Homo sapiens: one gene and its partners. The protein of the gene in region 4 interacts with the protein of the main gene of each other region in a pairwise test. Each region holds a gene or a part of one and is shown on either strand. Other genes may lie near its edges.

Region 1 (6,291 bases), on a different chromosome or scaffold from region 4:
TTTCAGCAGAGGTTCTTACTTTTCTGTAATTGAGGCGCAACTATAATGTTCCAGAACACAATCTTAAATCTGAAAGTGAGAGGAAGAAAAAAAAAAAAACGGCCTGAGCTCCAGAAATAGCTGACCCAGAAGAACACTAAAATCTAGCTCTCAGGCTCATAGGCAGCTGTTAACATTCACATTTTGACAGCTTCCTTTCAGGTTTCTTGAGCTCTCAGAAAAATTAGAAGGAAGTGGGCTGGGGATATAGAGAGAGTCCAAACTACCAACTAATGAATGAATCTGAAGGAGACACAGAAGGGCAAGTAGAGTTTAGAGTTTGAGAGTGCAGGAAAGTTTTGAAATGGTCAGAACTGCCAGAGTAATTTCTGAGATCTTACTAAGCACTCTCCCACCGTTTGCCTTAAAGATACCCCTTCCCCCAAATTGAAACATCACAAATCTGCAGAGCTCTTTAATCAGGTGTGTTATACACAGTGAATTTAATTCTCTTATTGCCCTGGAAGAAAGATAAACCAGATGTGGCCCTTGCCCCTTTTCAGTAAGTATTTGTTAGATCTTCATTACATTTTAGGCCTCCTTCCTCCAGTCTCGATACTGTGCAATGGAGAGATAAGCTTTGACCTCTTCAGTTAATAAGTATTGGCTATAATGTTGCAAAGTATTTGCCATGGAATCGTGTAGAATTTGTTAAGTCCAAAATGAGAGCAGCCTGTTTGCTTCTTTAAAGTGTTTATTGACCTTATTCCTGCCATGTTACAAATCCATCATTTGTGGTGGATTCCCATTAATAATGGTTACTCTCTAGGTTAGTTCTTGCTGCCACCCCTTTCTCTCCTGGTGGTGTGTTCCCTGAATACACTTAACCACTATTTCTGTTTTGGGCCGCCGAAGTATTCAGTTTTCTCAACATAGCTGCAACATTTAAAAATTATATGATAGCACACAAAAGTGTACATTTCTGGCAACACTGGCCTGGAATATTTGCATGGCCACAGCGTATGGAGCAGGGTTGTAAGTGCCCCTTTGAGAGGAAGAATGCATATCACTGTGTGCCTCAGTTCTCTCCCAGCCTCTCACATACATGTATGTCACCTGCCTGGCCCTAAGGACATTTGAGACCTCCCTGTGTTCTTCTCTTTGTCTTGGGATAGCCTGGCTTTTAGGAAGTGTTCTCAAAGAGGCAAGTGACATTTGAGCCCCTACAGTGGCTCAGGTGTGAAGTCTTGGGCTTTTCCCCTGTGGACTTGGAGTGAAGCCTTGTCAGTGACTGTAATGACCAAATGAGGAGTTATTTTAGCTTGTGTTTGTTACTATCTTCTGTCATGTTAAGGGCATCTTCGTTGCTAGAGTAATTTCTTCTAAAATATGGAAGGTCAACACTTTTCCCTTTAGACTTGTGGATAGTGATGGATAAAAATAACTCTCTTACTCTATAGTAAACTTGCTCAAGTGCAAAAGTTATATTTAGCTTCAGCAATAGGAGTCTATAAAACTGTGAGAGAAAAGCCTTACTAACTGAAGTCATCCTTCAAACCTTTCTACCAGGGGTTCCAATAGCAATTGCTAAGAATACGGCAGCTTAAAAAAATTTTTTTTCAATTGACAGATATTAAGAATGCCTGATATTTACTGACTTGAACATTAGTTAAATTCAGTTAGGGTGACCAGAGTGTTGCTATTTGTAGAACTGTTGCTTGGTAGAGTCATCCAAAGTGTCTTCCTAAGCTGTAATAAATATGCTTACTAATGTTTGACTGCTTAATTAATGGTCAGTAAGCATTCAGTCAGAGTTCGTTTAATACATGGAGAAAGATATATGCTTTAGATCAAGGGTTAGCAAACCACTGCTTGTTTGGGCCACGGCCTGTTTTTGTATAGTGTGGGAGCTAAGAGTGGGTGGTGTACATTTTTAAAGGGTTATGACAACGACACAGAATAATATGAGACACAAACCCTATGTGGCCCATAAAACCTAAAATTCTACTGTCTGGCTCTTCACAGAGAAAGTTTGCTGATCCCCGCTTTAGATAATGGGGGTGCTCTACTACTCCCCTTTTCATTTATAGTGTTACATAAGCCTAAATAATCACTGTAGCTGGTGGCATCATGTTTGTTACCTACTAAGTAGGTCAAAGTGATTGCCAGACATACACATGAAGGCCTTGAATTAGAAAGCAAAGGAACTGATGATGACCAATGTTTAACAAAATTCAGACTGACTTTGTGCCTGATCCTTCAAAGGCTAGAGGTGATATTTTTGGTACCTGAAACGTAATTTCCCTGATAAGTACTCTTTGCCCAATTATTGCTTATCAGCTGAGATATTAATGTCTGAATTATTCAGCTCATATATCTTCAAGCACTCAACTAGTTCATACTTTGAAATCAATTCTAATAGACAATTCTCATAACACCTTTATAGTCTTCCCATTTAAAAGGTAAATGTTGTTAGGGCTGGAGGGGTAAGATGCACCCTTGGTATATTGTCTGATCTCAGCAGAATCAACTACTTGGTAGTGTAGTCCAGAGAAAATGGGTCAAATCTATTAATTATTTTAGGATTTTGAAATTCATAATTGAGACTCGTGACTTAATAGTGAACTGCTCATGGTACTTTACCCAGTCTTCAAGTTGTATGCCTTTTGTAGGTAGGCATTTAGATGGGATGCTTTTGAAAGCATAATTAAGAAACTTTACTTGAATTTTGTTTATAATGGGCTAATGTTATTTTCTTATAGTTTGCAGTGTTGATGTGGGTATTTACCTATGTTGGTGCCTTGTTTAATGGTCTGACACTACTGATTTTGGGTAAGTCTACAAAGCCATTGGGATGAAAAATTGCTGGAAAGATTGTGTGCCAGGAGCTTAGACATTTTAGTGGAGAATATTCTCATTGTATGAAAAGTAGGGGATGAAAATGTGGGCCGGGCGCGGTAGCTCATGCCTGTAATCCCAGCACTTTGGGAGGCCAAGGTGGGCGGATCACCTGGGGCCAGGAGTTCGAGACCAGCCTGGCTAACATGGTGAAACCCCATTTCTACTAAAAATAGAAAAAATTAGCTGGGCGTGGTGGCGCACGCCTGTAATCCCAGCTACTCCGGAGGCTGAGGCAGGAGAATCACTTGAGCCCAAGAGGCAGAGGTTGCAGTGAGCGGAGATCGTGCCATTGCACTCCAGGTTGGGCAACAAGAGTGAAACTCCATCTCAAAATAAGTTTGAGGTTGTATTCTCTTTAAATAAGTTGGTGATACTGCTTCCCGGTTTATTGAAATGCTACCTTAGTTGCTGAAGACAGCTCCTACTAACAAACAGTGATAAACCAGATAAAGGGTGGCTTTATATGATGGTGCAGTCATAAATCTAACCAGGGATACCTTTATTTTATGAAATCTCACTGTGATATGATTTGAAGCTAGAAATGGTTCCTAGCTCTAATAACTGCAGCCTCACACAGTTCATTCATTCCTCTGGAGTGGCTCCTCAACAGCAGATGCATCCAGAGATCCTTATGTTTTTATTCATTCATTAGGAACACTGCTTGGTTATCTTGAGTTGCCAGTTTAATAGTTTTTTGAGTGTTTATTCCTCCCAAATCATTCCGTTCTTTTTGAAAAGTTGTATATTTCCCTTTTCAGCTCTCATTTCACTCTTCAGTGTTCCTGTTATTTATGAACGGCATCAGGTAATTTCCTAACTAACTGCTGACTTCAGAATAGAGCACTCACTCTATTACATGGGATTTACGGATGTATTAGTGCCCATTTTCAATGTCTTACAAAAATGAGAAGTGTGATGGTTTCTTAAGCCTTTAGCTTGACACATAGTAGTGGTTAATAAGATTCTTTAGCAACGGTAATAATTCCTTTATACCTCTCTTTCAGGCACAGATAGATCATTATCTAGGACTTGCAAATAAGAATGTTAAAGATGCTATGGCTAAGTAAGTATTTAAAATCTGCAGTGTTTTTACTAGGATAAGGTGTGCTGGATTGTGAGAACAGTATTTTCATATTGCAGGCATAATGAGTAACAAATCTCTATCAGACCTTAAGTGTGACTTCAGAGTTGCCAAAAGATTGTTTTTCTAACATTTGGACCATTCGTTTCTGGGTTTATTATGTGTTTAAGGCTTTGTTTAAATCTAATTCATGAGGCCAAGGTGGCAAAATTATAGCTTAGAATTAGGCAGCTTTAAGGATTTCATTTATTGTATTAGCTGAATAACATACAAGTAGTTCTTGGAAGATGGTATTTTAAGCAGCAGCAAACAAAACTGATATTTACATTGACTTTTTCATTTTCAGAATCCAAGCAAAAATCCCTGGATTGAAGCGCAAAGCTGAATGAAAACGCCCAAAATAATTAGTAGGAGTTCATCTTTAAAGGGGATATTCATTTGATTATACGGGGGAGGGTCAGGGAAGAACGAACCTTGACGTTGCAGTGCAGTTTCACAGATCGTTGTTAGATCTTTATTTTTAGCCATGCACTGTTGTGAGGAAAAATTACCTGTCTTGACTGCCATGTGTTCATCATCTTAAGTATTGTAAGCTGCTATGTATGGATTTAAACCGTAATCATATCTTTTTCCTATCTATCTGAGGCACTGGTGGAATAAAAAACCTGTATATTTTACTTTGTTGCAGATAGTCTTGCCGCATCTTGGCAAGTTGCAGAGATGGTGGAGCTAGAAAAAAAAAAAAAAAAGCCCTTTTCAGTTTGTGCACTGTGTATGGTCCGTGTAGATTGATGCAGATTTTCTGAAATGAAATGTTTGTTTAGACGAGATCATACCGGTAAAGCAGGAATGACAAAGCTTGCTTTTCTGGTATGTTCTAGGTGTATTGTGACTTTTACTGTTATATTAATTGCCAATATAAGTAAATATAGATTATATATGTATAGTGTTTCACAAAGCTTAGACCTTTACCTTCCAGCCACCCCACAGTGCTTGATATTTCAGAGTCAGTCATTGGTTATACATGTGTAGTTCCAAAGCACATAAGCTAGAAGAAGAAATATTTCTAGGAGCACTACCATCTGTTTTCAACATGAAATGCCACACACATAGAACTCCAACATCAATTTCATTGCACAGACTGACTGTAGTTAATTTTGTCACAGAATCTATGGACTGAATCTAATGCTTCCAAAAATGTTGTTTGTTTGCAAATATCAAACATTGTTATGCAAGAAATTATTAATTACAAAATGAAGATTTATACCATTGTGGTTTAAGCTGTACTGAACTAAATCTGTGGAATGCATTGTGAACTGTAAAAGCAAAGTATCAATAAAGCTTATAGACTTAAAATATGCTTTGGTATTTTCATTTCATGAAATTGCAGCAGATTAAAAATGCACACAGTGGGTAAACTGCTTCAACCAGCGAATGGTAGCTTGTGCTTTTAGAAGGGTTTTTTTCAGCTGATGGTGCAGCTGTTTGTTTGTTTACTGTGGAAACAAAAGTCAACAAATGTGTTTACATAATCAAATTTTATTTGACACATAAAATGTTTAAGTGATGTGTTTTATACTTTGAAAATAAATTCATGCACCAATGTTTTAACTCACATATATCATACAGTGCAGGATTTATGAACATACATAAAATCAAAATCATACCATATAAACGTTTACAAATAAGTTTTTCATGACACACGGACACTATTGCTCTTTAAATATGGTTGTACATGTCATCATTAATCGATTCATTGTTCTTCCACATGGTTATTTCAATGCAAGATCCGATCAGCATGAAGAGTCTAGTACAAGATAGGCAGACATGGTTATCACTCTGCATCACCAGTCACATGGTTACAGAAAACAGAATTGGGACTGCATAGGGACTCTACTGCGGGCCCAACAACCTATTAGTGGATTGATGTAAGGCATTAGTAAATTGGCATATAAAAATAGCTTAATGAGTGATCTAATCCATTTAGAATGCTGAAGCACTTCTGTGGTAAATGTTAGTCTATTCTACAATTGAAAATGCCTCATTTTACCTTTTCTCTAAACTGACAAATGCAAGTAGCCAGTAACTGTAGGTCTAGAATTTTCGTTCACTGACCAGAAGGACTAATAGGCGTCTATGTGCTCAGAACCACCAGTCCCGCACCAACTCTCCTTTCAGTGAGCACTGTCAGCCACATCCTGTAGTCACTGGTCAGCTACATGGAAAGTGTGACTGAGGGGCTTACGGATGGCTTCTGGTAAAGATTGTCCAAGTCATATTCCGTCATACAACCAACTCCAAGGAACTCTAACTCACTTTATAATTTTGAT
Region 2 (8,248 bases), on a different chromosome or scaffold from region 4:
AAAAAACAGGCACGGTGGCTCACGCCTATAATCCCAGCACTTTGGGAGGCTGAGGCAGGCAGATCACCTGAGGTCGGGAGTTCGAGACCAGCCTGACCAACATGGAGAAACCCCCATCTCTACTAAAAATACAAAATTATCCGGGCATGGTGGCACACTCCTCTAATCCCAGCTACTTGGGAGGCTGGGGCAGGAGAATTGCTTGAACCCGGGAGGCGGAGGTTCCAGTGAGCTGAGATCGAGCCGTTGCACTCCAGCCTGGGCAACAAGAGTGAAACTCCATCTCAACAACAACAAAAAAAAAGTGATCCACCCACCTCAGCCTCCTAAAGTGCTGAGATTACAGGCACGAGCCACTGCACCCAGCCCTCTAGTTATGTCTTTTTTTTTTTTTTTTTTTTTGAGACGGAGTCTCGCTCTGTCGCCCAGGCTAGAATGCAGTGGTGCGATCTCGGCTCACTGCAAGCTCCGCCTCCCGGGTTGACACCATTCTCCTGCCTCAGCCTCCCGAGTAGCTGGGACTACAGGCGCCCGCCGCTACGCCCGGCTAATTTTTTGTATGTTTAGTAGAGACGAGGTTTCACCGTGTTAGCCAGGATGGTCTCAATCTCCTGACCTCGTGATCCACCCGCCTCGGCCTCCCAAAGTGCTGGGATTACAGGCGTGAGCCACCGCGCCCGGCCTTTCTTTTTTTTTTTTTTTTTTAAGACGGAGTCTCGCTCTGTCACCAGGCTGGAGTGCACTGGCACGATCTTGGCTCACTGCAATCTCCACCTCCCGGGTTCAAGTGATTCCTCTGCCTCAGCCTCCCGAGTAGCTGGGACTACAGGCGTGCACCACCACGCCCAGCTAATTTTTGTGTTTTTAGTACAGACGGGGTTTCACCATGTTGGTCAGGTTGGTCTCGAACTCCTGACCTTGTGATCTGCCCACCTCGGCCTCCCAAAGTGCTGGGATTACAGGCCTGAGCCACCGCGCCCAGCCCTCTAGTTGTGTCTTTTAATGACAGATGTGCACTCTGTTGGGTACACGCGTGCCTGGGAGTGGAATTGCTGGTTCATGGGATAGACCATGTTTAGCTTTCATGGACGTTGCCAGACCCTTTCCAAAGTTCGAGTGCCATTCTGCATCCAACAGTGTAAGGAAGCAGCAGCTGCTCCACATCCTTCCTCCACTGGGAGTTGTCAGTCCTTTTCATTTTTGCCACCTTGGTGGGGCAGTGAATCCATTTCCCTCGAGGCAGCCTTCCTAACACAGCTCAGGGAGGCAAGTCAGAGGAGGGGCTGGGGCCAGGCCTGGGCCTGCCTGCCTCCCAATGCCAGTGTCTGTGGCCAGGATGCTGAGAGTGAGTGTGAGTGGGTGAGTGTGCAAGTGCATGTACACACCCACTGCACAAGACAATGGATGAGGGAGAAACTCCCGAATCTGAGGGGGAAAGGCAGTTGGAGGGCAGGGGCCATGTGCGCTGGGCACCCCTGGTGACCCCAGAGTACAGCCTGGTCCTGGTAGGGGCTACATGAGCCCAGACCTCTCCTAGGAAACCCACACATACTGTTTAATTTTTCTGGTGCAGGGGAAGAGACGCTCCCATAGACAGGTGGGGAGACTGAGGCCCAGAGACGGGAGGGCTTTCCTTGAGGTCACACAGCAGGGACAGTGACCCACATTTCTGGCTGAATGTGCTAAGGTCTTCCTGCTTTCCCAGCACCGCTTCCTTGGGGATCCCAGGAGGGAGGGAGGAGTCCTCAGGCTGGAGGCACCCATCTTTTTCTTTTTTTTTTTTTTTTTTTTGAGATAGGGTCTCGTACAGTGGCACAGTCTCAGCTCACTGCAACCTCTGCCTCCTGGGTTCAAGCGATTCTCTTGACTCAGCCTCCTGAGTAGCTGGGATTACAGGCGTGCACCATCACGCCGAGCTAATTTTTTTTTGTATGTTTAGTAAAGATGGGGTTTCACCATGTTGGGCAGGCTGGTCTCGAACTCCTGGCCTTAAGTGATCCGCCCATCTTGGCCTCCCAAAGTGCTGAGATTACAGGCGTGAGCCACACCTGGCCTGGGACTCACAATCTTCTCAGGTGCCCCCTCATCTCCCAGCACACCAACCCCCTACCCCCCTAATTCAGGGCCCATCTGCCAAAGGCCCCTTCCCTCAGGGACCCCATTTCTCACCATCTCATGATGTCTCTGCCTCAGGCCCTCCTCTCCCACATTACCCCTGTGTCCAGGTCCCATCTCCTGAAATTCCCTTATTCAAAGTCCCCCCCCACCCTCCCACTCCTAGGACCCCTCCTGCAATGTCCTTGCCCCTCAGACTCCACTGTCCCCCTCCCCGTCTCTTGCCATGGCCTGCGCTGTTCGACACCTCCAGGCCTCTGCCTCTATGTTCTCTGCTCAGAACAAAGACCAGTGGGTTTTGGAATGAAATTGCTTTCATTCAGTTCCTATAAGGAAACCCAACAGCTCTCATAACAAAAGTCCATCCTGAATCTCCTACGGCCTGCCACCAAAGAGGCAGCTGGAGCTCTGTCCCAATTCTATTCCCCAAGCTCTGTCTTTCGGTGGAGGTTCTTCCAAGGGCTACCTCTGCTGCTTTGGCCCTTTGAATTCAGATGCTGCTCCCCTATTCCTGCTCGGGGCTAATTGTGCTATTGCACTCCTCCTTTGGTGTTTTCTGTTTTGTTTTGTTTTGTTTTTTTCTGAGACAGGGTCTCATTCTGTCGCCCAGGCTGGAGTGCGATAGCACACTCTTGGCTCACTGCAACCTCCGCCTCCTGGGTTCAAGTGATTCTCCTGCCTCAGCCTCCCGAGTAGCTGGGATTACAGGCATGTGTATTTTTTTTTTTAGTAGAGATGGGCTTTTGCCATGTTGGCCAGGCTGGTGTTGAACTCCTGACCTCAAGTGATCCACCCTCCTGAGCCTCCCATAAGTGCTGGGATTACAGGACCACGCCCAGCCCCGCAGTCCTCCTTTGATTTTCAAGTTTGAATCCTATTTAGAAAACCTGATTCCAGGCCAGGTGTGATGGGTCACGCCTGTAATCCCAGCACTTTGGGAGGCTGAGGTGGGCAGATCACGAGGTCAGAGTTTGAGACCAGCCTGACCAACATGGTGAAACCCCGTCTCTATTAAAAATACACAAATTAGCTGGGCATGGTGGTGCACACCTGTAATCCCAGCTACTCAGGAGGCTGAGGCAGGAGAATCGCTTGAACCCGAGAGGCGGAGGTTGCAGTGAGTAGACATTGTGCCACTGTACTCCAGCCTGAGCAACAGAGTGAAACTCCATCTCAAAAAAAAAAAAAAAAAAAAAGGAAACCTGATTCCACTAAAAGCCTGGGGGTGACAAAGAGGAAATAAACAGTAACTAGCCAATCTGATCTTCAAAGTGTAACTCTTCCATCTTCAGTGTGGGGCCCTTGCAAAGGGCTTCCCTGCCTATTGCGCCACCAGCCCCTCAGACAGGGCCATCTTCCTCCCACCTCCTGGGAACACCTTCCAGCAGGCCTCAAAGCACAAACCCTAAACTGCTGTAGATCTTGGAAGACAAGAGCTGGGCCTAAAAGAGTCACTTGGGGCCAGGCGCAGTGGCTCACACCTGTAATCCCAGCACTTTGGGAGGCCGAGGCGGGCAAATCACAAAGTCAGGAGTTCGAGACCAGCCTGGCCAACATGGTGAAACCCCATCTTTACTAAAAATACAAAAAATTAGCTGGGCATAGTGGCGGGCGCCTGTAATCCCAGCTACTCGGGAGGCTGAGGCAGGAGAATCGCTTGAACCCAGGAGGAGGTGGAGGTTGCAGTGAGCCAAGATTGTGCCACTGCACTCCAGCCCTGGCGACAGAGTGAGACTCCGTCTCAAAAAAAAAAAAAAGTCACTTGAACCTGGGCATGGTGGCTCACACCTGTAATCCCAATACTTGGGAAGGCCAGGCAGAAGGATCGCTTGAGTCCAGGAGTTTGAGACCTACTGGGCCAACACAGCAAAATCCCTTATCTACTTAAAAAAATTTTCAAAAAAAAAAAGGTCACCTGGTTATCCCATATAGATATTTTCCTTCCAGCCCCACCCAGCTGCTTTGGAAAATTAGGATCCCAGTCTGCTTAAGGGAGCCCAGGCTTCCCTATACTTCCACACACATTTCTTGAGGCCCTGTTCTGGTTCACCCCATTAGAATTCAATTAGAATTCCAGCCCTGTGGGCCAGGCACAATGGCTCACGCCTGTAATCCCAGCACTTTGAGAGGCTGAGACAGGAAGATCACGAGGTCAGGAGTACGAGACCAGCCTGGCCAACATGGTGAAACCCCGTCTCTACTAAAAAAATACAAAAATTAGCTGGGCGTGGTGGCGGGCGCCTGTAATCCCAGCTACTCTGGAGGCTGAGGCAGGAGAATCGCTTGAACCCAGGAGGCAGAGGTTGCAGTGAGCCGAGATTGCGCCATTGCACTCCAGCCTGGGCAACAAGAGCGAGACTCCATTTCAAAAAAGCCCACAAAACTTCTCAACCTTTTGTCTTTCCCAACTTCACTCCCTTCTCTCCAAAGGTGTGTGTGGCGGGGTCGGAGGTGTCCCTAGCCCCAACTCATTCATCTTTGGGACTCCACAAGGTGGGGCAGGGGGCAACCTCAGATACCCCTCCAGCAACCATGGCCCCCTCACTAGCCTCAATCTCTTGAGGAAGGAATCAATTCCCACAAATTATCTAAATCTTTCTACTCAAAATGTAGTCCATGGACCAGGGGCATCAGCATCACCTGGGAACTCAGAAATGGAAATTATGGGCTCCACCCCAGACTTGCTGAATGAAAACATCTGGGCTAGGGCCCAGGAATCTGTTTTAGCAAGCCCTCCAGGTGTTTTTTTATGCCCTCTAGAGTCAGAAGGACAGCTCTGCACGGTCCCCATTGTGCCTTCCCTGGGAGAGTACACAACGCCCGCTTCTGCCGTTAGAGTTCCCATAACGCCCTCGCTCCTGACAGCCCACATGCACCCTCCTGAAACTACAACTCCTATAATACCCAGAGGCGCGCGCCGTCACTTTCTGGGATTATATCTCCCAAGGTGTTTTGCGAGTCAGACCGCCATCATAGCGCCCATCCTCTTAGTCACCGTCAGGACTACAACTCCCACAATACTCGGCGGCAGAACTACAGTCCCCAGCTGCTCCGGGGCTGCGCCACGTCGACTCCGCTGGGTGGGGCCGGCGTCGGGCGGGGCCGGCGGGGTCTTCAGGGTACCGGGCTGGTTACAGCAGCTCTACCCCTCACGACGCAGACATGGCAGCGCAGAAGGACCAGCAGAAAGATGCCGAGGCGGAAGGGCTGAGCGGCACGTGAGCGAGCTGGCTCTAGGCCCTCGGACCAGAGACCCGGGAGTCCGGGCCCCCGGCCCCCTCCTCCCTCCTCCCTCGAGAGCCTGGAGTCCCAGCCCCGAGCCGCAGAAGTGTTGGCCCCGGTCTCCTCTAATGGGACCCTGGAGTCTGGGCCCCTAGTCCCCTCCCTGCCTGCTGTACAGGAATCTGGGGTCCCGGGAGGGAGTCCAGGCACCCTTAGTCCCCTTCTTTTGCGGGGGTCTGGGGCTCCATCCCGGTCCACCACTGACCCGGCCCCACCCCCCGCAGGACCCTGCTGCCGAAGCTGATTCCCTCCGGTGCAGGCCGGGAGTGGCTGGAGCGGCGCCGCGCGACCATCCGGCCCTGGAGCACCTTCGTGGACCAGCAGCGCTTCTCACGGCCCCGCAACCTGGGAGAGCTGTGCCAGCGCCTCGTACGCAACGTGGAGTACTACCAGAGCAACTATGTGTTCGTGTTCCTGGGCCTCATCCTGTACTGTGTGTGAGTGCCTCCCGGGCCCCGCACCCGCACTAGCCCCGACCGGCTGGACCCCTCCTCTCGCCGCTCAGGCCCCGCCCTTCACCGCCCGGTCCCTCCTCTCACCGCCCAGGGCCCTCTTCTCACCGCCCAGGCCCCGCCCCCAAGGATTGGCTCTGCTAGACTACCTTGTCACCAAAGGGCCAGGTCCCCTACCCCACCATCACCCTGGCCAGGATGCAGTGTGACTAAATGTCACCTGGCCCTCCCTGGTCTCCAGGATGTAGCTTGCCGCCCGCCGGTGGAGAAGGCCAGGGCCGTCGGGCTGGCCCAGCCCCAGCTGTCTAACCGCTGCCTCCCTGCACTCCTCCTCCAGGGTGACGTCCCCTATGTTGCTGGTGGCTCTGGCTGTCTTTTTCGGCGCCTGTTACATTCTCTATCTGCGCACCTTGGAGTCCAAGCTTGTGCTCTTTGGTGAGAAACCCCCTGCCCAGATGAATCCTTGGTCCCTCAAATCTTGGTCTTTTGGAATGCAGACAGACCTCAGACCCCAAATCCAAGTCCTTCAAAACCCAAGTCCGCCCAAGCCTAGATGTACACTAGATCCCCCAAACCTGATCCCTTAAAATCTCAGACACAACCGATCCTTCCATCGAGTCTCAGCCCCCTCAAATTGCTATTCCTCAAACCCAGGATCCACCTGGCTGCTGTGCCTTAAACCTACTCCTTTTCAAACCACATGACTCCTCCCCTCTCTCTCCTCCCCTTGCCGCTCTCTGCGGCCAACATCAGCTGCAGGTGCCCACACTGGACACCAGGTGGCCACCTTACACTGGCCTAGATCTGTTCCCGTTTCTTTTCCTGCTTTCTGGGGTGTGACCAGAAAGAACTTGGAACTTAGAGAGGGAAGCCGAGGAGTATGTTTCATGTGGTTCCCAGACTAGTAGTACCAAGGACCACTGGGAAAACAAAATGCCAGGGGAAATTCCCCCCAGGGGAAAATCAAGGTTTGGAGTGGGGTCAGGGAGTTGGGATTGGACAGTTAGGTAGACCTGAAGGCCAGGCTCTTCAGGGGCCTGCAAGTTATGTGCTTGATGGGCTGGGGTGGAGGGAGTGCCTGAAGCACAGGCACGACTTGGCTTCAGCTGATCACCGTCACCAGAGCATGTAGACCCCATCCCTGAGACTTCTATGAGAAGCCTGAAGTTGGTATTTTTATGTGAAATCGTTCACTTTGCCAGCCACAAATCACATCCTTGCAAAACAGCTCAAAAAACACATCCACAGGTCAGATTTGGCCCTTGGGCCACCAGTTTGAGACCCTGGTCTGCGCGAGGGTTGCAGCAGGAGAGCCCTAGTCTAGGGAGCAGGAAGCCGGGATCCCAGGAACTTCCTGGAGGATGTGGGGCAGAGGGCAGAGGGTGGGGCTGAGGCAGGCGAGGACGGTGTGCTGTGTTCTGGAGGGCAGTGGGGACAGCAGGGGAACAGGGTGACCCCAGGACCTGGAGGGCCTTGGCATGAGGAGTTTGGATTCGATCCCGAGAACCTGGAGCTTGTACGGATTGTTGGGGGGCAGCAGGGGTTACTCTGGGAGAGGGCATGGAGAGTCGGAACAGCACCCCAATGCCATCTGCCCCCAGGCCGAGAGGTGAGCCCAGCGCATCAGTATGCTCTGGCTGGAGGCATCTCCTTCCCCTTCTTCTGGCTGGCTGGTGCGGGCTCGGCCGTCTTCTGGGTGCTGGGTGAGTACAGGGTCTGAGCAGCTGGGGTGGATGGTGGGAGCCAGGTGCAGGAGTGTGGCCCTGAGCTGCCGGCTTTCCTGCAGGAGCCACCCTGGTGGTCATCGGCTCCCACGCTGCCTTCCACCAGATTGAGGCTGTGGACGGGGAGGAGCTGCAGATGGAACCCGTGTGAGGTGTCTTCTGGGACCTGCCGGCCTCCCGGGCCAGCTGCCCCACCCCTGCCCATGCCTGTCCTGCACGGCTCTGCTGCTCGGGCCCACAGCGCCGTCCCATCACAAGCCCGGGGAGGGATCCCGCCTTTGAAAATAAAGCTGTTATGGGTGTCATTCAGGAAATATTCCCCCAGCATCTTCTGTGGGTCTCTATGGGTGGAGCTGGGAATACTGCACAGAGCAGGGTTGGGGTGGAACCTGGGGTGTGGGCAAGACGATGACAAGGTAAACAGGTAAAATATTATGGGATGCCCAATGGTGGTGAGTGTTCAGGAGGAGAAAAGAGTTGAGAAGGACAGTGTGCCGGGGGTCCCCGAGACCACCCCCAGGTTTGATGGTTCTTTAGGACTCAGGAATCAGAGAGCACCCCAGGTTTGATGGTTCTCTGGGACTGGGGACTCAGTATGCAATTGCACTCACAGCTCTGATTTACTCTCATCAAAGGGTATGGAGCCAAGTCAGCCAAAAGGAAAGGTGCATGGAG
Region 3 (7,528 bases), on a different chromosome or scaffold from region 4:
CTCCCAATGTGCCTGGATTACAGACGTGAGCCACCACGCCTGGCCTAGATTTGTACTTTTCATCCGGAAGAACTTTTGGGCCTAGCCCCCAGAATCTCGCCTAACTCTGTTGTTTGTTAATCTCTAGAACTTAAACTCTGAGAGGTTATATGTGGGTGAGTAAAGGAAAGGGACCTGCTTGAAGGGTATGGCAACTTCAAATGGTTTTGGTGTAGTTGGCTTCCCAGCCTTGATGAAAATCCCACAAAACTCCAAGAAATTGGACTCTAAATTTAAACTGAAAAGAAAATAAGAAGTCATTATGAAGATACTTCTGAGATGTTACAAAACTCAGAATCCATCAAGAAATATGAGTAAGTTCTAACTCTGCGGTTTGGAGAAAAATTTGACTTTTAAAAATCAGGAAGCTGAGGTGGGGGGACTGCTTGAGCCTAGGAGTTCAAGGTCACAGGGAGCTATTATGGTGCCTCGGAGTAGCCACTGTGCTCCAGCTTGGGCAACGTAGCAAGATCCCATGTCTAAAAATAAATTTAGTGGTGTGTATGTTTTTTTTTTCTTTGTGTTAGACTTTTGTTCTTGATGCCCAGGATGGAGTGCAATGGCACCATCTCAGCTAACTGCAATCTCCGCCTCCTGGGTTCAAGCAATTCTCCAGCCTCAGCCTCCCGAGTAGCTGGGATTACTGGCGCCTGCCACCATGCCTGGCTAATTTTTGTATTTTTAGTGGAGACGGGGTTTCGTCATGTTGGCTAGGCTGGTCTCAAACTTCTGACGTTAGGTGATCCACCCGCCTCAGTCTCCCAAAGTGCTGGGATTATAGGCGTGAGCTACTGCGACTGGCCATAAATTTAGTTTTTTTAGATTTTTTTTTTTTTTTGAGATGGAGTCTTGCTCTGTCACCCAGGCTGCAGTGCAGTGGCAAGATCTTGGCTCACTGCAGCCTCCACCTCCCAGGTTCAAGTGATTCTCCTGCCTCAGCCTCCCAGGTAGCTGGGATTACAGGCGCCCACTAGCACGCCCGGCTAAGTTTTCTATTTTTTAGTAGAGATGGGGTTTCCCCATGTTGGCCAGGCTGGTCTTGAACTCCTGACCTCAAGTGATCTGCCCATCTTGGTCTCCCAAAGTGTTGGGGTTACAGGCGTGAGCCCCTGCGTTGGGCTGTAGACTTTTTGGTGGTGTTTTTTGTGGCCTATTGCAACCTGTAGATCCTTGCTATTCCAAGTTTGGCCTTAGGCCAGCAGCATTGCCATCACCTAAGGGCTTGTTAGAAATGCAGAATCAGTGGCCTTACCCCAGAACTTCTGAGTCATCTGCATTTAAACAAGATTCCCCAGGTGATCCACGTGTACATTAAAGTTTGAGACTTACCTTTCTATATCCTTTCAGTGTTAACCTTGCAACAGGCCGGGCTCACGCCTGTAATGCCAGCACTTTGGGAGTCCGAGGTGGCTGGATCACTTGAGGTCAGGAGTTCAAGACTAGCCTGGCCACCATGGTGAAACCACATCTCTACAAAAATACAAAAAATTAGCCAGGCATATAGCGAGTGCCTGTAATCCCAGATACTCCAGAGGCTGAGGCAGGAGAAGCGCTTGAACCTGGGAGGCAGAGGTTGCAGTGAGCTGAGATTGTGCCCTTGCATTCCAGCCTGAGTGACAGAGCAAGACTCCATCTCAAAAAAAAAAACAACAAAACCTCACACAGGTGCTAGCAACCAGCTTTCGATAAATAGTCAACCTTAAAGCTGAGATTTTTCGGTAAAATGAGACTGCCAATACCTCCCTCAAAGGATTAAGAAAATGAAATAATATGTGTAAGTTAGTACCTACCGTATTAGGTATCTAACTGATGTGCAATAAATGTTAGCTGTCATAGTGCTAACAATGCCTGTCTCTAAAGAAACTGTGTGAAAATATCACCAAAAACATAATTATGTGTTTGAATTAAAGATAGTTTAATTCCTTATGATTTAAGTTAAATTGGTATTTTTAATGGAATGTGATTGGATACTAAAGCTAATCTGAAACATTATGAAAAAATTAAACGGTGCAGTTGCATAGATTTTATCTTTTCTTTTTCTTTTTGAGACAAGGTCCTGCTCTGTGCCCAGGCTGGAGTGCAGTGGTACAATCATAGGTTACTGCAGCCTCGACCTCCTGGGCTCAGGTGATCCTTCCACCTCAGCCCTCCAACTAGCTGGGACTACAGGTGTATGCCACTATGCCTAGCTAATTTTTAAATTTTTTGTAGAGATAGGGTCTCCCTGTGTTGCCCAGGTTGGTTTCAAACTCGTGAGCTCAAGCAATCCTTCCTCTTCGGCTTCCCAAAGTGCTGAGATTACAGGCATGAGTCACTTACCTCCGCCTATATCTTTTCAAAATGAAACCTGTACGTATCTCTTAGTTGGGGAGAATGTCTAGTGTGGTTAAACAACTGATTTAAATTATCTTCTTCCTCCTTGTGTGAATTTTTTTTTTAAATGAATAAAGACAGTCTAATGAGACTGTGTTGCCCAGGTTGGTCGCAAACTGGGATTACAGGCGTGAGCCACCGCACCTGATCCACATCCCTTTCTTGAGCCCTTCCCATGCCTAGATGACTTTCTGACAATGTATTTGTATAGGACTTTTTAATAACAAAAGATGGGTAATAGGAATTTTTTTTTTAAGACAGATTTTTGTTCTGTCACTGCAGGCTGGAATGCAGTGGCATGATCATAGCTCACTGTAACCTCGAACTTCTGGGCTCAAGGGAGCCTCCTGCCTCAGCCTCCTGAATAGCCAGGACTACAGGCATGTGCCACTATGCCCTGCTATTTTTTTTTTTATTTTTGTAGAGACGAGGTCTTGCTATGTTGCCTCAAACTAGAGGCTAATCTCGAACTCCTGAGCTCAAGCAATCCTGCTGTTTTGGTCTCCCAAAGTGCTGGGATTACAGGTGTGAGCCACTGCGCCTGGCCTGGAAATGTTTAAATGCAAATTTTAGCTCAGCTGATTTTGATGTCTCTTAATCTCATCGAATCTGGGTTCCTCAGTTGTACAGTATGGGTAGTAATGACTAATTGACCATTTTAGGAATTGTAAGAATTAAGAGGTTAATGTTTGATAGTTGCTTTCTTACGTAACTCAAAAACAAATGTGAGTATTTGCACTTCAGGGGTGGGTAATGGCATCTCTTTTATTTGGTGGAAACCTTGTTAGTTTTTTAAATCTCAAGCCAGTCAGCACAATCCCTGGCTGGTTACTGTTCTCTGGAGGATGTGCAGGGGTGGGGCAGTAATACATTATAGAAATCATATGCAACACAAATATAGCTACATTTACAAAGCTGCAACTTTGAGAAATGACTGGCTGTAGACATAGCACTGAGCTTATCAGCCCCAAATCCCCTCAGTTCTGTTGGAGGGGCTGGTTCAACTGAGGTTCAGCTGGGTTCCTGATTCGTAAGAGCTGGTCAAATGACCAGGCAGACACACAATGACCCTGGTCAAACCGTGAAGGGTTCTGCGTTTTGTTTACTACTGAAGATTCCTTTGTACTTCTGGCTCCCATTTATCCCTGAAGTCATGCATATACAAGCGCATAATGGTAGATGAAGCAGTGGGTTTCTCTATGTTGGATTCTCAGATCCACCATTCTGTGGCTCCTTGTAAAACAGTCCCATTTTCCTTTAGGAAGATTGTTATCTTTAGGAGTTGTCTTCCTGATCAAGGACTTGGAGTCAAATAAATTCTGGCAGAAAAGCAAAGTTATAATTACTCTTAAGTTTTTTTGATGATTAAAAATAGTGAAATTATAATCCACGATCTCAAAAGAAGTTGTTAAATGTAGAGCGTACATGTGTTTTACAAAACCACACAAAGACAGTTCAAGAAAATGATACTACAGACCAATATTCCTTATATGAACACAGACACAGAAATCCTCAACAAAATACCATATAGAAAATAAAACCCAGCATAATGGAGAAAGAATAATACACCAAACCAATTTGATTTATCCCAGGAACAAAAAGGTTGGTGCAGTTTTTGAAAGTAAATGTTATAGGTGTACACCATATTAATAACTTAAAATAACAGGCCAGGCACAGTGGCTTATGTCTGTAGTCCCAGCACTTTGGGAGGCCGAGGCAGGTGGATTGCTTGAGCCCAGGAGTTCAAGACCAGCCTGGGCAACATGGTGAATCCCCTTCTCTACAAAAAATACAAAAATTAGCATGACATGGTTGTGCATGCCTGTAGTCCCAGCTGTAGGCTAAGGTGGGAGAATTGCTTGAGCCCAGGAGGTCAAGGCTGCGGTGAGCCGCGATCGTGCCACTACACTCCAGCCTGGGCAACAGAGTGAGACCGTTTCTCAAAAACAAAACAAAACCCAAAGCCACATGATTCTATCATTTGATGCAGAAAAAAAAAACTTTTGACAAAATTCAGTACTTTTCCATAATAAATGCTGTCAGCAAACTTGGAAGAGAAAGGAACTTCTTCAACCTGAAAAAGGGCATCTACAAAAAATCTACAGCTAACATTATACTGTAATATATAATGTTACAGTGGGGAAAGAATGAATGCTTTCCCCCATGATGGGAAACAGGCAATGATGTTTACTGTTACCACTCATATTCAAGATCATACTGGAAGTCCTAGCCGTTGCAAAAAAATTAATAGGAGACGTACAGATCAGAAATAAATAAAACTGTCCCTATTCGCATATGGCATGATTAGGTAGATAATCACATGGGAATCTATAAAAAACCTCCTAGAACTAATAAGTGAGTTAGCAAGGTTACAGGATATAAGGTCAACACACGATAACCAATAGTATTTTTATATCCTAGCAATAAATCATTGGAAATTAAAACAAAAAAACCAATATCAGTTATAACAGCACTCAAAAGAATGAAATTCTTAGATATAAATCTCACAAAACATGTATAGAATCTGCTCACTGAAAACTACAAAACACTGAAGTAAGAAATCAAAGATGACCAAAATAAGTAGACAGGCATTCTGTGTTCATTAGGATTGGAAAACTCAATATAGTTAAAATATTAGTTCTCCACAAATGATCTATAGGTTTAATACGATCCCAAAATCCTAGCAAGGTTTTTTTGTAGATAGAAGAATGCTGATTCTAAACTTTATATTAGCCAGGCAAAGGGCTAGTGATGGTTTATGGAGGTATGTTCCAGGGAGAGAGAACAATGACATGAAGTCACCCTTGTTTAGGGTAGAATGTGTGTGTGTGTGTGTGTGTGTGTTGAGGGGAGTGTTTCTGAGAGTATGATGGACTTCGTATCTCTTATCGGCCATGAGACTTTTGGCAAGCTACTTGTTCACTCAGGCCACAAGCAGATCTCCTGCAGGTCTCTCACTTGGGGATTGTAAGTTGGGGATAATGGTAGTATTACAGTGCTGGTGAGCCCACCATGCTCCCTAGCTCAGCGTCTCAAGACACCACGTCATCAAAGCCTGTTGGAGGTTGCTATGGTCTGAATGTTGGCATTCCCCCAAAATTCAGATGTTGGAACCTAACACCCAGTGTGATAGTATTAAGAGGTGGAGCCTTTTGGGAAGTAATTAAGTCATGAGGGCTCAGCCCTCATGAATGGGATTAGTGCCCTTTTAAAAGAGTTTGAAGGGAGTGTCCTTGCTCATTCTGCCATGTGAGGACACATAGAAAGTGCCGTCTGTGAAGAATGGGCCCTCACTCAGATACTGAATCTGCTGGCACCTGGATCTTGGAGTTTCCAGCCTCCAGAACTATGAGCAATAAATTTCTATTTATAAATTACCCATTTTGGCCAGGCGCGGTGGCTTACACCTGTAATCCCAGCACTCTGGGAGGCCGAGGCGGGCAGATCACAAGGTCAGGAGATCAAGACCATCCTGGCTAACACGGTGAAACCCGGTCTCAATGAAAAATATAAAAAATTAGCCGGGTGTGGTGGCAGGCGCCTGTAGTCCCAGCTACTCAGGAGGCTGAGGCAGGAGAATAGCGTGAACCCAGGAGGCGGAGCTTGCAGTGAGCCAAGATTGCGCCACTGCACTCCAGCCTGGGCGACAGAGCGAGACTCCGTCTCAAAAAAAAAAAAAAAAAAAAAAATTACCCTTTTTACGGTATTTGGTTATAGCAACCAGAACAGACAACAGACTGATAGTGATACAGAATATCTCTGGAATGATACAAGTTGGGGAGCTGGGTGGCCGAGGGCCAGGGTGTCAGGGAGACATTTTCTGCTGTATAACTGTTTGTACCTTTTGTATTTTATTTTATTTTATTTTATTTTTGAGACGGTCTCGCTATGTTGCCTAGGCTGGCCACAAACTCCTGGGCTCAAGCGATCCTCTTGCCTTCAGCTCCCAAAGTCCAAGGTTTACAGGCATGAGCCACTGCTCCCAGCCCTTGAATTTTGTACCACATGCAAGTACCTTCTATTCAAAAATTACTAAAATAGTAGATGTTACTAGCTTTACCTTAGTATAGCCTTAAAGCTCATATACTGACTGTAATCTTTAACTTTTCATGACTTTCTTTGTAATTTGGAGGCCCTTGGGAAGAATGATTTAGATAATACAGACCACTTGGACAAACTTGAAGCTTAAATTGTTTTAAAATGCACTTTTCTGTAAAAAAAAAAAAAAAAAAAGCATTCTGCACAATAGTGGGTGCTTAATAAATTTGTTGATGCTAATGGAAAACTTCTTCCATTTGAAAGGAATTTACCCTCATTTGTTAGTGAAAATGTTGTAACATTAAAGAAAATTAGAAATTAGAAAAATAATCATCGTATTATGACAGACTCAAATGAAAAGGACTTGGAAATTTTTTCCTTTCCAAAGGCTACATATGATCCCCTGTGGCAAAGTCTGGTGATTATGTTTTCTAGTTTTTTTGCTATTAGGAAGATGCGTCAATAAATGTCCTCATGAGTGTAGCCTGGATTCTTCTTTTGAATTATTATTTTTGGTTAAATTTCAAGGAGTGCTTTTACTACATCAAAGGACAAGACCACCACATTTCTGAACATTTAAAAAAAAAATACAGACTTGGTTGACATTTCCTCCCAAAGCATATCTGAAGGTCTCAGTTTATTCCAGGTTTCTAGTATGCTTACCCACAAGTACAGACAACTGGGAAATGGTGACCTCTGTAAGTCCTAATGGCTCCTCCTGGACCACAGGGCTAAATTAATTCTTTCTCCACAACTTTGGAGGAACTTTTTTTTTTTTTTTTTTTTTGAGACAGAGTCTGACTGTCACCCAGGCTGGAGTGCAGTGGCGCAATCTTGGCTCACTGCAACCTCCACCTCCTGGGTTCAAGCAATTCTCCTGCCTCCGCCTCCTGAGTAGCTGGGATTACAGGCGCCTGGCTAATTTTTGTATTTTTTGTAGAGATAGGGTTTCCCATGTTGGCCAGGCTGGTCTCGAACTCCTGAGCTCAAGTGATGTGCTCATCTTGGCCTCCCAAAGTGCTGGGATTACTGGTGTGAGCCACTGTGCCTGGCTGGAACTTTGTTGTTTTTTTTTTTT
Region 4 (8,266 bases):
ACACCCACCCACACCCTTTATGTAAATAGAAATAAATGTACCTTTCTTAATTGCAGCAATAATTCTGGGATTCAGGTCCAGTAGATCCAAATCCATTTTGTCGGTGGGCTGGCCACCAGGATGAATAACTTCCCAGGAAAGACAGAACAATGGATGCAAATTCTGAGGCACTCGCCTTCAATTCAAAGCCTGTGGGAGGCCCGAACCAGGGAAGTGACAGCAGCCGAGGTGTCCGTGTCATCGGGGCTCTGTCACTGAGGGTGGAGGAGACTTCACTGTAGAGGGAAGGCTGTCTAGCTACATCTAGGGCAACATGTCTGTCATTTACCTCTAAGAATTATTTAGCAGCTTAGAACCCATTCCAGACACTGATGCATTTGAAAAACCCCCCAAACCCACCACATTTACCTCCTGTGGAAAGTGCTAGAAATAAGACCATCCTCCTGCAGCAGTTGAGTGCCCTGCCCGACTCACCTCTCTGGGGCTTGGGGATGACCCGCGTGTTTTTGGCTGACTTGACTGAGGCATCTCTTGCACTCTGCAGTTTAATTTCCCTTAAGTGTCTCCCTGGGGACTCTGGAAAGAGTGGGAAGGTGAGTCTGGGATTGGCAGGGTGCTCAGGGATCCAAACATCAGTCGCCCCCAGCAGCCAACAGCAGAAGACAGCTTCCTGTGGGACGGGAGGAAGGTGCTGTGGACCCCACCCAGCCTCTCCCAGGAAGGGAGCTGGCAGCCATTCCACAGCCCGAGCCTGGCCCAGCAAGGGAGAAGCTCAGCTCTTCTCCCCTCCGGCCTCAGCAGGCTGCTCAGGGACTCAGCCTGGGGTCACATAAGGCCTTTCCAACAGGCCACTCTGCATCCCCTGTCGGCCTCCCAAATGGTGAGACCAAGAGTGTCCAGGACATGGGGAAACTGGAAGGCAGCAGCCTCGAGGGCCGGGTCCAGGATCCATGTCCTCCAGTGAGGCCTGGCGCCCTTGGCCGTAACCCAGCAGAGGAAAGGGCGGGCCGTGGACTTGGAGAAGGTTTTCCCTTGGACCACACAGAATGCGGCACTGGCCTGGACACGATCACGCTGGTCACTCGTATGCCCATGTTCAGCCTGCTCAGGGAGACAGGAACAGACTACAGGAGCAGCAGGCTGAGGCACGCCCCCAGGCACCCCGTGAGGCGGGCAGGGCAGGGAAGCTGGTGCTCCAGGATGCGTTTCCTGCCCGCGCACCAGGCTTGGCTCCCGGGCCCCCACAGCCTGTGGGTTTTCTGAGCAAGGGACAGGGAGGTGCCCAGGCCTGGTTGCCCAGGCAGGCCTGACAGGAACTGGCGAGAAGCCACCCTGGAGGGCCGGGCGCAGGCCAAGGCAGGGCGGTGGGGCGCTGAACCAGCTCCAAACTGCTGGCAGAGCTGGCCAGAGTGAGGAAGTGAGGTTCCCAAGCACAGAAGGCAAATCAAAAAGGAATGCCACCTCCAGGGAAGACACTACACTGCCAAAGGAGATGCGGCCTTGCCCGGCTCGAAAAGAGGTCATTTTCAGAACATGGGACTCTCCAAGCCCTGAGGACAGGAGGCAGCCTGGGGAGTATGAACCTCGCACCTGGTAGGGGACCCCACACCCGAGGTACCACCCAAAACACAGCCCAGATCTGCACGGAGGGATGGTTCCCTGAGCAGGCGTGACTGTCACAGACAGGCTGGGCCTGGGGGCTGTCGGGAGGCTGCTGTCCCAGGCTGGGTCTGGATACAAAACTTGGACTGTGTCAAGCAGCGGGACGCTGGCAGGAGCACCGGGAAGGCCAGCACGTGGCTGCAACGTCTCCCGCCTTCAGGACGCGGGCCGAGGCCAAGGCACCTGGAAGCAGAGTGTCCACTGACGGATAACAGACTCACCGGTTGGCCAACGGCAGTCCGGCTCCTGAGGCTCCTCCTGGGCCCTCTGTGCACATCCTGCTGAGAACTTGGTTTAACAGGCCTGGCTCAAAGTCTGTTTAGTGACGACCTCCTCCCGTGTCCCATCACCCTTGACAGCTGATTAGGCGCCTCATCTTCCACTGTCCCCCGGGCGGCCTGATCTGGCAGGTCAGTTGAACCTGCATCCCCTTCGCCCCTGGGGGTTCCTCTTAGCAACCTTCCATCCTCTGCCCCTGCCCAGCTCTGGAGCTGTAAGCCGCCACCAGCCCATGGCCTGTTCAGAGCTGAGCCCAGCCTCTCTCCCACTGCAAGACCGCAGTGTGGTGGTTCCCACATCTCTCAAAGGTTCTGAATGAAAGCCTGGTCTCTGCCTAACGTGCTTTCACAGATATCCTGGAATATTTTCCCTTTAACACCAAGCACCTGCCGCATCCCAGACACTGGCCTGGGAGCTCCACAGACAGCCCGGCACATGCCTCTGTCCTCTCGCCGCTGTGAGGGGCAGGGGTGTGACCAGCCCATCTCTCTACACCGGGGTGAAGGCCACACACAGGGAGCAGCCCACAGCAGGCAAGGGGCTGGCCCAAGACAGACCTGTATGTCTTCCTGCAGCACCCGAGCTGAGCAATGACTTCAGGGGGAGAGCTGATGTCACGTGCTGCTAGGTGAGTACGGACGGTCACACCAGAGCTGTTAGGCTCACACACCAGACTCTGGAAATGCCGTGGTTACTGCCTGGAGCTGCTCTGAGCCTTCCGAGGTGGACTCACTCCTCTGCCTTGGGCCCTGGGACCTGCTGTGTAGCTTTGAAGTGATTCACAGCACTTACATAGTCTGATGTTTTGGGGTGACCTGACCCCCCTGCAAGAGTGTGATGTCTTATCAGACCACATATGTGAGGACTTGAGTGAACTCCGCAACCTTGGGAATGCCACTTAAACCTTGTCAGACACTCCCTTATGTGAGTTACTGACCCTGACTGCTGGACTGCAAAAACAGACATCAGCTTGAAGGTTGTGCAGATGCTTTGAGGCAAGCTATACGCTGCTGGCCTGGGAGCTGGACCTCGGTCCCAGCTTCTCAGAGAGCTCCCGCTCTCACGCTCTCCACTGCTACCAAGGCAAACCTCGAACTCTCACCAGATCTCACTCTCCAGGGGCCCGCTCCATCCCAGCAGAGCAACCGGACCCTGGCCGTTCTGCCACTCACCTCCCTGCCGTGAATGCACCCCATCCATGGAGGCCCTGCTTCCCTGCCAGGTGTCTTCACCTCCTCCCCTCTCCTCCCCTCTGAGCACTGTGAACCCGAGAACAAATCTTCTTTGACAATAAACCGTGTGATTCGTGGAATCATACTTTGATCATCTCCTTATTTCCTCCACACACAAGGACCCCTGCACTGCCAATGGCCCCAGGAGAGGGCAGAGTCAGCCACAGGGACCCCACCTCACAGGCTTCAACACTGCTGATGCCTGTCATCCCAGCACCGTGGGAGGCCAAGGCGGCCAAGGTCGCCTGAGCCCAGGAGTTCAAGACCAGCCTGGGCAACACAGCAAGACCTACTCTCTACCGAAAAAAAAAAAAAAAAAGAAAAATAGCTGGCCAGTGTAGTGGCGCTTGCGGTCCCAGCTACTTGAGAGCCTGGGAGGTCGAGGTTGTGCCTAGCTGTGAAGACGCCACTGCACTCCACCCCGGATGACAGAGCCAGACTGTCTCAAAAAAAACAATAAAAATTCACGCCTTGTAATAAGGAATTAAAGGCAGGATGAACAAACATTTTCTTCTTTTTTTTGTGTGCTTTCTGAGATGGAGTCTTTTTCTGTAGCCCAGGCTGGAGTGCAGTAATGTGATCTCGGCTCACTGCAACCTCCGCCTCCCGGGTCCTGGTTCAAACAATTCTCCTGCCTCAGCCTCCCAAGCAGCTGGGATTACAGGCACGTGCCACCACACCCAGCTAATTTTTGTATTTTTAGTAGAGACGGGGTTTCACCATGTTGGCCAGGCTGGTCTTGAACTCCTGACCTCGTGATCCGCCCGCCTCGGCCTCCCAAAGTGCTCGGATTACAGGCGTGAGCCACCGCGCCCGGCCTAAAGGATTTTCTTTCCAAATCAAAGTATTAAAATAACTGTTCAGACCTCTCCCACTTCGATGCGAAGCCAGCGCGGTCCCAGGCGGACGAGCGAAGGCATCGAAGGCCGGGGGCGCAGCCGCGGGCCCACCTCGGCCTCCCCTGAGCGGACGCCTCCCCGCGCGCACCGGGGGCCCCGGAGACCGCCTTCCCCGCTCCGAACGCACGCGGCCCGGCCCCGGCGAGGTGCCTGAACGCTACCCGAGCTGCGGCGGGGCTCCCGGGGTGAGTGCTGCAGCCCCAGGCCCGCCTGCTCCCACAGGCTCGGGCAATGGAGACCCGCGGCCGCCCCCGCCCCTTGACCCTGCCTCACCCCTCACGCCCGCTGCCGCCCACGACCTCCGACCCCGCTGCCGCCCGGCTCGCAGCCCGGCTCGCAGCCCGGCTCGGCGGGCCTCACCTCCCGCGGGTTCCGCACTCCTCTTCCCGCCGTCCTGCTCCTCTCGGCCTTCTCCTCCAATAGGCGCCTAGCACCCTGAGTGGGCTACACCAATCAGAGACGAAGCGGCGCTAACGTGACTGACTAACTAACCAATCCAAAGTCTCAATCTCCCTGAGAGGGGCGGAGCGTACCCGGGCCAGCCCTCGCCGCCGATTGGTGATCGACCTCAGGGTTGCAGGGGCGGTGCCCTTACACGGATTGGAGAGGGCAGCGATGGGGCGGAGTTCAAGCTCCGATTAGTCCGCGCTCCGTGGCGGGCTTGGCGATTGGACGCCGGCGCTGTCAGCCGCGCGCGGACCGGGGCGGGGCGGGCGGTGCCCCGGGCTGGGCGAGGGGCCGGGTGCGGGGCCGCTGGCCGAGAGGCTGAGGCGGCGTCATGTCCTCCGAGGTGTCCGCGCGCCGCGACGCCAAGAAGCTGGTGCGCTCCCCGAGCGGCCTGCGCATGGTGCCCGAACACCGCGCCTTCGGAAGCCCGTTCGGCCTGGAGGAGCCGCAGTGGGTCCCGGACAAGGAGGTGGGTGGCCGTCGCCCCGGCCAGCGCCTCCGACCCGCCCCGCCGCCCCGGCCCGGCCCCGCGGGCTTCCAGGCTCCCGCGACGACCCCTCCGCCTCCGGGCGGCCCCTTCCCCAGCCGGCCCCCGCCCCCGCTCTCTCCCAGGTTGGCCGCGTCCCCGGGCCGCCGCCTCAGGCTCCTACGCCCGCGGGGAGGGCGGGAGGCGCGCGGTGTCCCGGTGCGGGGGTCCCGGGAGGGCAGGAGGCACCTGTCCAGGGCGGGCGCCGGGAGGCGGGGTGCGGGGCGCGGGCTGGTCCCGGGGGTGGGTGCGGCCCTGCCCGAGGCCGGTTCGTGCTGGGCTAGCGCGTGTGGACTGCGTCCCGAGAGCTGGGGCTCGCTCCCGAGAAAGTGGAAGGCGGAGCGCCTTCCTCGCAGGCTCGGTGGGGAGGGCGCGTGCTGTCCGCGGAAGCGCTGGAGCTGGCGGCCCCGCAGGGGTCCCTCCCGGGAACCGGGGGAGGCGTCGGTGCCGCGGGCGGGTGGCCGGTTCCGAAGCCACCTCCTGCTCGGAAGGAGGGCCAGGACCCAGTCTGCGGGCCAGGCTGCCCCCCGTTTCCCTTCGTCTATACCACCCTCCACCTCGGAAGCGAGGTCGCAGTCGCCCACTGGACAGTTTGAAGGAGACCGCAGATTTGCACCCGTTTCCCATGGGCCCAGACACGGCAGGAGTTGCCCAGGCCACTCCTGCAGACATTGGGGCGTGGGCGTGGGGTCCCTGAGCCAGGCCATCCGCTGGGCCTCCCGTGGGGTTCCCTGTGACCTGATCGGAGGTGCCTTTGCCTCACACCAGCCCCTTGGCCAACTGGGAAGGCCCCGAGTGCATTTAATCCCACTGGCTGTGCGCTAACAGGTGTGTCCAGTTTCTGTTCTGTGGATTTTACCACGATAAAAAAAAAATTGGGGGAGAAAAAGAATTTTTGTAATATGACTTTCATACTTAACACGTGTTACAGATTCGTTTAATTCCCTCAGTGATAGAACTAAGCAGACGTTGGAACTAGGTTCAAGAAGTCAAAGTAGCACTAATTGACTGGGTTCATTGAAGCTTGGTTGGAGGCCTGGTGGGGGGTGAGCGGCCACAGAGCCTCGGGGACAGGACGGAATTCGAGTGACTCTGGGGAAGTGTCTCTGGCATCTACAGTGTACGGAGCCATCACCGGTCACTGAGCGTGTCCTGGAGAGTTGAGACCAGTGCTGCCCACCTCTCCCCAGTATCGCCACCATGAGGAGTCTTTTTAGACACTTTCCGCCAATCATCCTCCTTCATCTTTTTTAAAATTTACTTTTAAGTTGACACGTGAAAATTGTATTTATGGTGTAACGAACTCTTAATAGCACAGAAATACTCTACGTCTGTATGAACCGTAAGGAGCACGTGAGAAAGTGTGGCCAAGATGAGGCAGAGGTTTCCACCAAAGCACAATTTCTTTCTCCCTGCTGTACACATGCACTGATCTTACGGTTCTGTTTTATAGTGAACCACTGTGTTCCCCTCCTTCATTCTCTCTTCCAGAGCCCTTCTGGTATCAGCTGAATTGTTTAGCATTTTTCCCTGCCTTTCTTTGTGGCCTCTGCTGAGGCACTGTGTGGCAGTCCCGCGGTGACTTCCGACTGAGTGGAGTTGAAACACTTGAGTCAAGGTGGCACCCCTCGTGGAAGAGAAGATTCATTCCCACGCTGGCGTGGTGGCAGGATACCCCTCCAGAGCCCCCCACCATGTTTGGATGATTAACTGGGATCTGAGCAGCTGAGGGAGGTCCTAGCATTGGGTGGGCTTGGGGGACAGAGAAACCATTCTAATAAGATGGACTTTGTCTCTGAGTTTTGCGTTGTGAATTGTATTGGAGCATGGTCTTACAGGCCAGAAACGACCAAAGACAGTGTTCTGGAGGAACTTAGAACGGGGCAGTAAGGGCTGGAAGATTTGGAATAAAGTCCAGCTTTAGGTGCAATAGCTCGAGGGGACATGTACGGTAACAGTCGCCTGGCATGTGGTGATGCTGAAGGGGACACTGAGCTACACTGTGCTGGCTGCGTGCTTGGGGCCGCTAAGGTGATTGTCGGGAGGTGACTCAAATGTGCAGATAACCAGTTGTGGGAAATAGGTTTATTTGAGGTGGTTTGGAATGGGGAGAGGAGAATTTGGTAGAACTTGGCAGGTGGGTAACATTGTCCTTGGCTTGGTGGCCGTGTGCCGATCGGCATCATCGTCATATCTGTAAACGTGTTGGTCCATTTTCATTCCAGCTCTGTTCTTAGCCAGGGGAGTCTGAATCCAGCCCAGTGCCCGTCTCCCGAATACCAGCTGCCTGACCGGGCTGGTTTATCAGTTTGGGCCCATGAGGGTTATCCCTTTAAAATGCTGCAAAACCCCCTGGGGAGCATGTGCACACATGCACCTTTCTCCGAGAGGTGGCCTGCAGCTCTCAGATTCTCAAGGCTCTGACGCAGAACCAGTTGAGAATCGTTTCTCCAGTCTGTGCCTCCTCAGGAACCTGTGGGGCAGGGGAGGCAGAGGCGGCGTGTAAAGCTTCGTGCGACACCACTTTGGATAGAGGTGCTTTGGGGGTGTGAAGGAAGCTTCAGATGATCTCTGGGGCTTGTCTGACTCTGCCATCAAATATCCGACACTGACGCAAGGCAGTGGGCTTGGGGGTGGGCGGTCCGGGCGTGCAGCCATCTGGGCTTGTCACAAGCAGCTGAGATCCTGAGTTTTATCCTTAAAATCCTTGCCGCTGTGCACCCCTCCCACCTCCCATCCGTGGTGCTGGCAGAAGAATGACCGCAGCTCCATGCTGGCGGGTTGACACTTTGATGGATACTCTAGATTCAGAGCCAGGAAGGAGAGAGCACGTGCGCGTCTGATCACGAGCCTGGACTCGGATGAGGAGAGATCTGAAGTGAGGACTGTTGCTAGAGGCGTCTGGAGCTGTGCAGCGGGGAGAACAGGGGACCCTGAGTTCTGCGAGGGTCTCACAGGCCAGGCCGGACAGGGCTTTTCTTTTGCAGGGAGGAGTGGCCAAGGCTAGAAAGAATCAAGCTGGGGAGGTGGGATGGGCCAGTGGAGGGTCAGGACCTCCAGCAGATCAGAGAGCTGAGGCCAGAATACAAAAATTAGCTGGGCGTGGTGATGAGTGCCTGTAATTCCAGCTACTTGGGAGGCTGAGACAGGAGAATCACTTGAACCCAGGAAGTGGAGGTTGCAGTGAGCTGAGATCGTGCAGCTGCACTCCAGCCTGGGCG

What was found.
Region 1: the proteins of ZFYVE21 (region 4) and RTN4 interact in binary tests that used the Homo sapiens proteins (3 or more experiments, as listed by UniProt).
Region 2: the proteins of ZFYVE21 (region 4) and RABAC1 interact in binary tests that used the Homo sapiens proteins (3 or more experiments, as listed by UniProt).
Region 3: the proteins of ZFYVE21 (region 4) and CMTM4 interact in binary tests that used the Homo sapiens proteins (3 or more experiments, as listed by UniProt).

What each region holds. Positions count from the first base shown.
Region 1 is NC_000002.12:54,971,215-54,977,505, reverse strand, and holds the end of RTN4 (reticulon-4), read left to right. Parts: intron 1-2,741; coding exon 2,742-2,811; intron 2,812-3,638; coding exon 3,639-3,685; intron 3,686-3,884; coding exon 3,885-3,943; intron 3,944-4,307; coding exon 4,308-4,350; 3' UTR 4,351-5,317; downstream 5,318-6,291. UniProt on the Homo sapiens protein: Required to induce the formation and stabilization of endoplasmic reticulum (ER) tubules. They regulate membrane morphogenesis in the ER by promoting tubular ER production.
Region 2 is NC_000019.10:41,956,322-41,964,569, reverse strand, and holds RABAC1 (prenylated Rab acceptor protein 1), read left to right. Parts: upstream 1-5,248; 5' UTR 5,249-5,277; coding exon 5,278-5,333; intron 5,334-5,621; coding exon 5,622-5,834; intron 5,835-6,186; coding exon 6,187-6,284; intron 6,285-7,450; coding exon 7,451-7,552; intron 7,553-7,635; coding exon 7,636-7,724; 3' UTR 7,725-7,887; downstream 7,888-8,248. UniProt on the Homo sapiens protein: General Rab protein regulator required for vesicle formation from the Golgi complex. May control vesicle docking and fusion by mediating the action of Rab GTPases to the SNARE complexes.
Region 3 is NC_000016.10:66,686,256-66,693,783, reverse strand, and holds part of CMTM4 (CKLF-like MARVEL transmembrane domain-containing protein 4), read left to right. Parts: intron 1-7,528. UniProt on the Homo sapiens protein: Acts as a backup for CMTM6 to regulate plasma membrane expression of PD-L1/CD274, an immune inhibitory ligand critical for immune tolerance to self and antitumor immunity. May protect PD-L1/CD274 from being polyubiquitinated and targeted for degradation.
Region 4 is NC_000014.9:103,710,992-103,719,257, forward strand, and holds the start of ZFYVE21 (zinc finger FYVE domain-containing protein 21), read left to right. Parts: upstream 1-4,818; 5' UTR 4,819-4,850; coding exon 4,851-4,988; intron 4,989-8,266. Other genes in the region: DNA repair protein XRCC3, read right to left, coding at 42-96. UniProt on the Homo sapiens protein: Plays a role in cell adhesion, and thereby in cell motility which requires repeated formation and disassembly of focal adhesions.